Regions from separate parts of the Homo sapiens genome. Here regions 1, 2 and 4 are each linked to region 3. Evidence: fine-mapped expression QTL. A gene starts in region 3. Each other region holds a variant in brackets. All regions are shown on one strand. Distances are between the middles of the regions.

The links. PIP is the estimated chance that this variant, and not a neighbour inherited with it, causes the effect.
Region 1: its variant is fine-mapped to the expression of USP30-AS1 in whole blood (TOPMed, PIP 0.98).
Region 2: its variant is fine-mapped to the expression of USP30-AS1 in whole blood (INTERVAL, PIP 0.99).
Region 4: its variant is fine-mapped to the expression of USP30-AS1 in T cells (TOPMed, PIP 0.98).

What each region holds. Positions count from the first base shown.
Region 1 is chr12:108,968,710-108,971,398 of GRCh38, forward strand. The region is part of intron 5 of SVOP (SV2 related protein); the gene reads right to left. Among named protein-coding and RNA genes, the nearest start is that of SVOP, 51 kb to the right of the region's middle. The variant G/A (reference allele first, on the strand shown) is at 1,275.
Region 2 is chr12:109,078,799-109,081,487 of GRCh38, forward strand. USP30 (ubiquitin specific peptidase 30) reads left to right here. Exons shown (of 13, transcript NM_032663.5): 8 at 2,536-2,595. Among named protein-coding and RNA genes, the nearest start is that of ALKBH2, 13 kb to the right of the region's middle. The variant A/G (reference allele first, on the strand shown) is at 1,530.
Region 3 is chr12:109,052,912-109,055,600 of GRCh38, forward strand. USP30-AS1 (USP30 antisense RNA 1) reads right to left here and starts at 1,054. Exons shown (of 2, transcript NR_038996.1): 1 at 775-1,054. The region is part of intron 1 of USP30 (ubiquitin specific peptidase 30); the gene reads left to right. RefSeq lists enhancers at 1-358, 692-1,061.
Region 4 is chr12:109,005,858-109,008,546 of GRCh38, forward strand. The region is part of intron 1 of SVOP (SV2 related protein); the gene reads right to left. LOC105378256 (a long non-coding RNA gene) reads left to right here. Exons shown (of 3, transcript XR_945331.3): 3 at 1,223-1,864. Among named protein-coding and RNA genes, the nearest start is that of SVOP, 14 kb to the right of the region's middle. The variant A/T (reference allele first, on the strand shown) is at 1,549.

The sequences.
Region 1 (2,689 bases), 84 kb before region 3:
AGTGTGTGTGTGTGTGTGTGTGCATGTTTGTCTTTTGTGTGTGTGTGTGTGTGTGTGTTTGTGCATGTTTGTCTCAGGAACAAATAAATGAATTTTTTTTTCCAGACAGAGTCTCGCTCTGTTGCCCAGGCTGGAGTGTAGTGGCATGATCTCGGCTCACTGCAGCCTCCCCATCCTGGGTTCAAGCAATTCTCCTGCCTCAGCCTCCTGAGTACCTGGCACTACAGGTGCATGCCACTGGGCCTGGCTAAGTTTTGTAGTTTTTGTAGAGATGGGGTTTCGCCATGTTGCCTAGGCTGGTCTCTAACTCCTGAGCTCAGGTGATCTGTCCTCCCAAAGTGCTGGGATTACAGGCATGAGCCACCACTCCTGGCCTCCTTTGATTATTTTAAAGGCTTAAAGATTAACATTGGATTCAGCCTCAGACAGCCACAGCTTTACAGTTCTTTTAACGGCTGCTCAGCTCCATCAAAACAAAAATGACTCTGTTTTATTTTCAGAGGTGTTTTTTCTTCTCTCCTTCCTTCCCTCCTCCTTCCCTCCCTCCTTTCTTCCTTTTTTCTTCCTTCTCCCCCTTCCTCACTCTCTCTCCCTACCTCCTTCCTTTCTTCCTCCCCCCTCCCTTCCTACCTCGCTCTCTTTCTCCTTTCTTCTTTCCCCCTTTCCTTTTCTTTCTTTTTTTTTTTTCTGAGACAAATTTTCACTCTTGTTGCCCAGGCTGGAGTGCAATGGCACGATCTCGGCTCCTGAGTAGCTTACAGGCATGCGCCACCATGCCTGGCTAATTTTGTATTTTCAGTAGAGATGGGGTTTCACCATGTTGGTCAGGCTGGTCTCGAACTTCTGACCTCAGGTCATCCTCCCACCTCGGCCTCCCAAAGTGCTGGGATTACAGGCATGAGCCACCGCGTTCATGCCCTCTTTAGTTCCTTCCTTTTTTTCTTCCTTCCCTCCCTCTGTCCCTTCTCCCTCCCTCCCTTCTTCTTTACTTCCCTCCTCCTTTTTTTTCCTTCCTTCCTTCCTTCCTCTCTCCTGTCCTTAAACTCTTGTTCATTCTTCCAAACAGAAAATCACCATGCCATCACTCATATGCTCCAGAAACAGGAAGTGGGTGGGAGAGCAGATGGGGGCAGAATCTAAGGAGCTGCCACTGAAGACCAGAGTAATTCCTTCTTGGGTTAACAGGGGGGTAATAACCAGCTTTTACTTCCTTTGGGAGCCCCAGAGAGGCCTTTCCAACTGCCATCTCCAGCCCCATCACCGGCCAAGACCCC[G/A]AGGCCCATCATGGCTGCATTTAGTTTCCAGCCTGCTGCCTCTGGAGTTACATTCTTGGCAATTATATTGATCACCATTTCTTGGCAGTTATATTGATCACCATCTTCCAGGTGTCTGCTGGCCCAAGTTTCCTGCGCAATAGCAGTGAGAGGGGATGCAGCTGGAGTCTGCATCCTCTATGGCATTGCTGGAACGTTCATTCATTCATTGAGCCATCACCTGCTTCTGGAGCACCTACTGATTCAAGCCACAGGCATCATAGTGAAGACAGAGCTCTAGACTTAGAATGAGCAAGACCTGATTCTGTGATGAGCAAACCATGTGGTCCTGGGTAAGTTGCCCACTCTCCGTGCCTCAGTTTCCTCTTCTATCAAGTTAGAGTGATAATAGCACCTACTTCAATGGTTATTAAGGGGATTGGATGAGCTAACGCATGAACCATACTTTGCATCATGCCTGCTATACAACGCGCTATTTTATTTTCAGCCCATGATTTGCTAGTTGTAGTGGAGATTGCCTGTTACCTACCCAGCATCCAGATCTCACTTCTTCCTTCCTAACAGAATTCTAGGTTTGTTGAGGTAGCCCATTCCCAGCTCCAGTAGTAGGTTATTCTTAGTCTAAGCCAATCGTTTTCAAAGTATGGTCCCAAGCATTGACATTGCATGGGGTCTTGTCAGAAATGCTACACTCGGAATTTCAGTTTACATGTGTCCTGTGCCTAGCATGTGCCTGGCATTGTACAAAGAGATTCACACAGTGGCTCACATCTGTAATCCCAGCACTTTGGGAGGCTGAGGTGGGAGGACTGCTTGAGGCCAGGAGTTTGAGACCAGCCTGGGCAACATAGTGAGACCCTGTCTGTCTACAAAAAATAAAAAAACAATTAGCTGGGCATGGTGGCACAAGTCTTGTCCCAGCTACTTGGGAGGCTCAGGTGGGAGGATTGCTTGAGCCCAGAAGGTCAAGGCTGCAGTTAGCTATGATTGCACCTTTGCACTCCAGCCTGGGCAACAGAGCAAGACCTTGTCTCAAAAAAACAAAAGAAACAGTGATTTACACCTCAATTAACCCTAATTCATCTCTATTAACCCTCCAATACAGGTTCTGTTATTTTCTTCTTTATACGTATTAGGAAATTGATAATCAAAGAGGTCAATTTGGCTGAGCACAGTGGCTCATGCCTGTAATCTCAGCACTTTGGGAGGCCATGGCCGGTGGATCACTTGAGGTCAGGAGTTTGAGACCAGCCTGGCCAACATGGTGAAACCCTGTCTGTACTAAAAATACAAAAATTAGCCAGGCTTGGTGGCAGGTGCCTGTAATCCCAGCTACTTGGGTGGCTGAGGCAGGAGAATCACTTGAACCCAGGAGGCCGAGGTTGCAGTGAGCCAAGATCGTGCGATTGCACTCC
Region 2 (2,689 bases), 26 kb after region 3:
TTTTTGTCTTGCCTTCATTTTTGAAGAATACTACTGCTGGATATAGAACTTTGGGTTGACAGTGTTGCCGTGGTTTTGCTTTGGTTTATTTTAAATTCATCACTTTAAGGACATTGTTCTATTGTCTTCTGGCCTCCATTTTCTCAGTTAGTGTCATTTATATCATTCTTGTCTATGTAAATTGTCATTTGTTTTTCTTCTGCTTACACTGCTTACAAAATTTTCTCTTTATTTTTGTTCATGCTGCGCATAGATGTGGTTTTCTTAGTATTTATCTTATTTATCTTGTTTGGGGTTTGCTGAGTTTCTTAAATTTGTACTTTTTTTAACCAAGTTTGAAAATTCTTGGCTGTTATTTTTTCAACAAAGATTTTATGCCCATTTTTCACTTGTTATTTTACTTAATGTTGGCCCACAGGTCACTGAGGTCTTGTTCAATTTTCTTCAATCTTTCTTCTGTGTGTTCTTTAAATTAGATCATTTCTATTGACTTATCTTCACGTTCACTGATTCTTTTTTCTCTTTTTTTCTTTTCTTTTTCTTTTTTTTTTTCTTTTTTTTTTTTTTTTTTTTTTTTTTTTGTGACAGGGGTCTTAGCTCTGTCACCGAGGCTGGATTGCAATAATGTGATCATAGCTCACTGCAGCCTCAACCTCCCAGGCTCAAGTTATCCTCCCACCTTAGCCCCCTGAGCAGCTGGGACTACAGGTGTGTGCCACCACACCCAGCTAATTTTTTTTTATTTTTTGTAGAGACAGGGTCTCACTGTGTTGCTCAGGTTGGTCCTGAACTCCTGGGCTCAAGTGATCCTTACACTTCAGCCTCCCAAAGTGTTGGGATTACAGGTGTGAGCCACCATACCTGGCCTGATTCTTTTTTCATCTCCAATCTCTGTTTGCCTATGCAACAAATTTTTCATCGTAATCACTGTTGTTTTTAGTTATAGAATTTCCATTGCCTTCTTTTTAATAGTTTCCATTGTTCTGAGATTCTCAATTTGTTCATTCACTGTCACTGTATATTTTCCTTTACATCCTTGAGCATATTTATGATACATCTGTGAGGTCCTCGTGTGCTGACTTCTTTGTATTTTATGTTTGGTAATTTTTTATTGTATGCTTAACATCATAATAGAGACATAGAGAGTAGGGATTCTGTTACATATCTATGAAGAAAAATTAATTTTCTTCTGGCCTGCAGTTAACCTGGCTGGGCTCAAACTCAACTCTGTCTCCCCTACATTGGGCAGCAAAATCTCTGCTCAGTTTTTTTAGCTTCCAGCTGCTACTTTTTGCCAGGCTCCCTGGAGTTTCCCCCTGTGCACGTGTGGTTCAGGGATCAGCCCTGGAATTGAACAGAGTTTAGGTATAAACTTTGGGGCTCATCCCCTCTGTGTCTCCTTTCTTCCTGGCATTTCCCCTGGTCTCTCCACCAGCCCTGATTCTTGAACTCTGTCGTCTGACCACTCAATCCTGTAGGATGCTGCTTTTCGCCACCCAGCACCACATCAACCAGGAAAAAAAGCCACA[A/G]ACACACAAATCTCGCCCACAGAGTTCTGTTTTTCCAACAGTTGACTTCTTTTCCATTTCTGCCTGCTTTTGGTAGCTCTCCGTTCATTCAAACGGTTTTGTTTTGTTGCAAACTTTACAATTGTTATCTCAAGGAGGGCCAATCTACCCAAGCACCTCTGCCATCACCAAAAGCAGGAACTCTCTCACCCTACTTCATCGTCTCCTTTTTTGCAATGAATAATCTAACATGAACATCTTTCCACATGATCATATGTTCTTCTACATTTTGTTTAACATAGTGTTTCATTCTGTGGACATGCCATATAATTTATTAAACCATTTGCTAGAACTTCCAACTACAGTCATGTGCTATATAATGATGTTTTGGTCAATGACAAACCACATATATGATGGTGGTCCCGTAAGATTATAATACTTTATTGGTACGGTACCTTTTCTGTTTTTAGATACACAAGTACTGCCCACTGTGTTACAGTTGCTTACAGCATTCAGTACGGTAACATGTTATACAGGTTGGTAGCCTAGGAGTAGTAGCTAGACAGTATAGCCTAGGTGTGTAGTAGGCTGCACCATCTAGGTTCTTGTAAGCGCGCTCTGCGATGTTTACACAATGATGACATCACCTAAGGATGCATTTCTCAGACTGTATCCCCATTGTTAAGTGATGCTGACTGTATTCAAATTTTTGCTATTACAAATAATGTTGATGAATATTCTTGTAGTTATGCCCATGGTTATTTCCTTAAAAATCCCAAAATTATTGCTGGGTCAGATATTTAATCTTTCAGTTGTTCCAAGCGATTCTTTAGTATTATTGTACCTCTTATGTGTACAAGGTTGTTTTAATATGTTTTAATAGAATTTTATTCTAAGTACATTATATTTTACTGTGTTAATGTTGGGCATCTCAATATTAAACTGTTTCATAGTCACATATCTTGCATCTTTAAAACTTTGAACTAAGCCTAAATCGTTTCTGGATTTTCTGCAATATTTCTTTCAGAGTCCTGTTCGATTTGATACCTTTGATAGCCTTTCACTAAGTATTCCAGCCGCCACATGGGTATGTACTGATTTATGGTTTATTTGGAGTCTGTTTCAGAAACATTTCAATCTGAAAGGGCTTTGAGGCATTTTATGTGGCTCAGGCACTATGT
Region 3 (2,689 bases):
GCCCGTAGGTGGGAGGACTGACGGGCTCCAGTCCTTCGGCAACACCAATTCTGTCTGCACTCCCCAGGTCTGTCAGTCCCTCCCCCTCCTGTCATTGTTCCCAGGACACCCGGGGCACTCCAGTCTTGTCAAGGCCCCTAATTCTGTCAGTGCCCTCAGTCCTTTCAGTGCCTCCTAGGCCTGCCAAGACCCCTCAATCCTTCTAGTATACCCCCAGTCCTTCTGGGTCCCCCAATCATATCAGTTTCTGGACTGCCAGGGTTCCCCAACCTTGGCACGGTTCTTCTAGTCCTATAAGTGCCCCGGGCCTGCGAGCCCCGCGTTTTGTTAGTACCGCCCCCTATTCCTGTTAGCCCGCCCTCTAGTCTAATATGGATCGCCACTTCTGTCTGGGTCCCTGATGTTGTTAGTGTGAGTAAAGGCCCTTGTTTTGCAAGGGTCTCTAAATTGGTCAGGGCCCCTTTAACCTGTTAAGGTTGCTTGGTCCTGTTAAAGCCCTCCGTTCTTGTTAGGACTCCTCGATTGCCTGGGTCCCCAATCCTGTCAGGGCCCCCATTTCCCTCTTATTCACCCTCCCAAGGGCTCCAGGCTTCAGAACTGAGTACCCCCTCCCCCACTGCTGACCCCAAATGACTGAGACCTGTTGCTCAGGTCGGCTTCCTCTGGAACTGGAGCAGGTTTAAAGAGCTTATTATCCCAGGGCTGAAAGTCCTCGATACTTATCCTGTCCAGTGCCCCCATTCCGTAGATAGGAAGTGTGGCCCCATAGCTGACCTCATAGCAGAGTTGGGAGGAGAAGCCAGATCTTTTCATCCGCAGGCCCCACCACTCTCCTCGTGATGTCATTTTGCAGAGGAATGGAGTTTCCAAAGTCGCCACTTGTCCCTGGGTATTTTTTCCTTATGCTGCCAAAGTCATGGACAAGTCCTCTCTCCCATCCCCTTGACACTCTTCCCTTCAGTTTCCATCTTGAACTTCGTGGTTTTAAGCACAGACCTGGGGAGACAGACAGGCATGATTCAGAGCCATGTTCCTTCACTCACTGTGACCAAGTTGGGCTCTTAGTTTCTTCTGCTATAAAAATGAAAGTGATAGTAGAACCTGCATCTGTGGGGTTGTTTTAAAAATGAGGTAAGATTGTCACAGGGCCTGGCAGAGAGTATGTACCCTTAAATATTAGTGTTTGATTAGGGGATTTTAAAGCACTGGTAAAGCACCTTAGCACTTCCATGACAGTCCTTTATAATCTTTCCAGGCACTTTTGTGAACTCACGTATCGTGTAAAAGCACAGTGATGTATTAAGAAACTTCAAGAATACCTTTCACCAGCTGGGCATGGTGGCTCACACCTGTAATCCCAGCTCTTTGGAAGGCTGAGGCAGGTGGATTTCTTGAGCTCAGGAGTTCGAGACCAGCCTGGGCAATGTAGTGAGACCCTGTCTCTACAAAAAAATTTAAAAATTACCTGGGCATGTGGTGTGCAGCTGTGGTCCCAGCTACTTGGGAGGCTGAGGCAGGAGGATCACCTGAGCCCGGAAGGTGAAGATTGTGTTGAGCTGAGATGGCACCACTGCACTCCAGCCTGGGCACTAGAGCAACTAGAGCAAGACACTGTCTCAAAAAAAAATAAAAATAAAAATAAGAAAAAAAGAAAGAATAGCTTTCATGAATGATCCTGAGATTGTAATGCTTAATTTGTAGCAGCTAACATTTATTAAGTTCTTACTATGTACTGTATGCATTCACACTTATTTAATCCTCACAACAGCCCTATGAGGTAGGTCTTATGGATTGTCCCCATTGTACAGATGAGGAAACTGAGGCTTAGAAGGTGAAGTGATGCCAAATGAAATAGCAAAGCCAGGATTGAACCAGAATAAGGTAATCCCACTTTCTTAACCAAGTTTGGTGCATATTCTGTTGACTCTGTCTTGGAAAACAAATATTTATCTGAAATTCAGCTATCAGCTATGATACTAAGAAATGCTGATTATTATAAAACAGGGTCAATATTACCACCAGTGACTCTTCACCAAGTTAATGTTTACTGAACTGAAATCAAAACAATATTCACATGATCCAAATACTGGGATAATAATGTATTACACACACACACACACAAACACGTATGTATGCATGTGTAACATATATGCAGATACACATTACATAGCTATATACACATAGATGGTTTGTCTTATTTTGTAGAAATATATAACTTTGTATAAAAACAATGTTTTAAATTGTTGGGGAAATTTCTTAATATGTAGCAAAAGCATAACCAGCGTTCAAGTCAAGCCTGAAGTTAGGAAATCTTTAATTTTATAAATATTCAGCTCTTTTATACCATTGTATGTGTGCCCCTTCCCTGTCTAATATTCTAAAAGAGAAATTCATTTCTGTATATTTTCTCCAGTATTCAGTCATTCAATAAATATTTTATATATATATACACACACACATATATATACATATATATATATATATATATATTTTTTTTTTTTTTTTTTTTGAGGCAGAGTCTCGCTCAGTCACCCAGGCTGGAGTGCAGTGGCGCAATCTGGGCTCACTGTAACCTCCGCCTCTTGGACTCAAGCCATTCTGCCTCGGCCTCCAGAGTAGCTGGGATTACAGGCACCTGCCACCACACCCAGCTAATTTTTGTATTTTTAGTAGAGACAGGGTTTCACCG
Region 4 (2,689 bases), 47 kb before region 3:
ACAGCTGGGATCACACAGAGCCCTGGAGGTCACAGTGAGGATTTTCTGTGTTGTCCTAAGACCAGTGGGACACCATGGAAGGGTTTCAAGTAGCAGCAAGAGGGTGGAAGATGATCAGAGTTGAGTTTTGAGAAGGTCACTCAGCACATTCTCCCGCAAGAGGAGGAATCAATGGAGGAAAGTGGGTTGTTTTGTTTTGTTTTGTTTTGTTTGAGAAAGAGTCTCACTCTTGTCACCCAGGCTGGAGTGCAGTGGCACAGTCTCGGCTCACTGCAACTTCTCACTCCTGGATTCAAGCGATTCTCCTGCCTCAACCTCCCAAGTAGCTGGGATTACAGCTGCCTGCTACCACGCCTGGCTAATTTTTGTATTTTTAGTAGAGATGGGGTTTCACCATGTTGGCCAGAAAGGTCTCAAACTCCTGACCTCAGATGATCTGCCTACCTGGGCCTCCCAAAGTGCTGGGATTACAGGGTGACCCACTGTGCCCACCCCAGAAAGCGTTTCTTAAATATAGGTTTTAATATTATTTAGGTATGGCAAGGCTGAGAAATCACGAGATGTGAGCCATTGACAAGATATACTCTGTCATACTTACAGATCCCAAGAAGAAGGGGCATGCCACACTTTAAGGGGCACACATGGCAGCCCCAGGGTTTGTCAGGAGGCAGAGGGTATAGGGGGAGAACGTGACCAAGAGCCTTTATTGTGGTTTCCCAGGAAAGAAATGGGCAAGGCAGAGGCTGCCGGCTTAGGTTCGGTTCGTTTGAATAATTTCATCCTTCTCTGGAGCATAGGGGCTGTCCTTAATTGTCTCATGCCTGGTTCTGGGGTGATGAGGGCAGGTAGATGTGGCCTGGAGTCTGGGAGCTGGATAAAGAAGGCGGCTGGAGAGACCTGAGGCTCTGGCCTGATTGGTTTGTATAGGAAAGGCACGCTGGCAGGTGAGCTGTTTGCTATTTCTAGGAATTAGTTAACTCTGAGAGGGGCAAGTCCCTCCAGGGTCAGCAAGCCTCCAAGATGCTGAAGCATCAGAATATAAACAATCAATGGCCTGGTTAATACAAAAAGATGGCTGCAGAGGAGTCAGGGAGGCCAGGAAGGAAGCTGTGTGGCCAGTGGGAGAAGAGGTGGTGGTGGTTTGGATTAGGGGGGTTGGAGAGGTGGAGGGCTGAGGCTTTTGTTAAATATTCATCCCTTTCTCCCCAACTCTTCCAAATAGTACAAGAAGACATCTTCATAGGGAGGCTCCTCTGCCAGTGGAAGGCAGGGTTGCAAGAAGGGATCACCTTGTTTGGGGAACTCGATCAAAAACACTGATAACCAGTATCCCTCAGCTTTGTCCCAGATACCCTGGTGATGTGGCGTCTTCTGAATCTGAAACTTATCAACAAATGGAGTTAGATGCTGTGCACTTGAAGCAGCAGAGACTGCCAAGGTCACTAACATATGGACTTGCTTTGTCTCCTTCAAGACAAGACCTGGGGCACTCCCTGAGCTGTAGGATTTGAGAAGAGTCTTCCCAGGAGATGAACCTCTTCTTCAAAT[A/T]TTTGAGGCTCTGACCTGTGAAAGAAGGTGCCTCTCAACCTGAATCCTAACAGCAGAGCTTGAACTTCTGGGTATAAGAAAGAAGGAAGCAGATCTCAACTCAATATAAAGAGGAGCCTTATCAGGCACAGAAGTCGAGAGATGAAAATGGCTGCTTTAGGAGGCAGTGGGCTCACTCTCATGAGAGGCACTGCAACAGAGGCAGGTGTCCCTGTGATTGGCTCAGGAGTAATGATATTTAATATTTATGCATCACTTCAGCATGCCAGGTCCAAGCCTGAGTGTTATAAACTATCTTATGTAATGCACTCAACAATCATAACAGGGAAGTATTATTAATAACTCTAGTTTCAGCCAGCACAGTGGCTCATGCCTATAATCCCAACACTTGGGAGGCTGAGGTGGGAGGATCACCTGAGCCCAGGAGTTCGAGACCAACCTGGGCAACATGGCAAGACCATGTCTCTACAAAAAATTAAAAAATTAGCTGACCGTGGTGGTACGCACCTTTGGTCTCAGCTACTGGGGAGGATGAGATGGAAGGATCATTTGAACCCAAGAGGTGAAGACTGCAGTGAGCTATGATTGCACCACTGCACTCCAGCCAGGGTGACAGAGTGAGACCCTGTCTCAAAAAAAAAAAATCTCCAGTTTATAGACAACTAAGCTGAGGCTGGAGAGGTTACACCAATGGTTCCAGGTCTCCTAGATAATATGCAGTGTACTAGGACCCTGGCTCAAGTAGCTCCAAAACCCATGATCTTAACCAGTCAGCCAAAGCTTCTGTACCTGAAGCCAAGAATACCCCTGTGGAACTGATTAAAATGCTGATTCCTGGGCCATACTCTAGACCTAATAATGCTTTTGCATCTCTACAGAGTGGGGCCCAAGAACCTGAATTTTAATAAGATGTTGATGGCAGCCACAGAAGTCTGAAAGTCACCATCTGATGCCTGCCTGCTCTGAACTGGGGAGATGGGGTGTGAGGGGTTGGATGTGATGACCTTTAAGTTTCCTTCCATTTCTGAATGTGTTAGAAGTCTATAATTAATGGAAATTTTAGTTCTCTGTGGATTTTATTTATTTGCATTTTTCTGCCATCCCCGTCAACCTGAATAGCAATGAGCTTGTTCCTAGGATA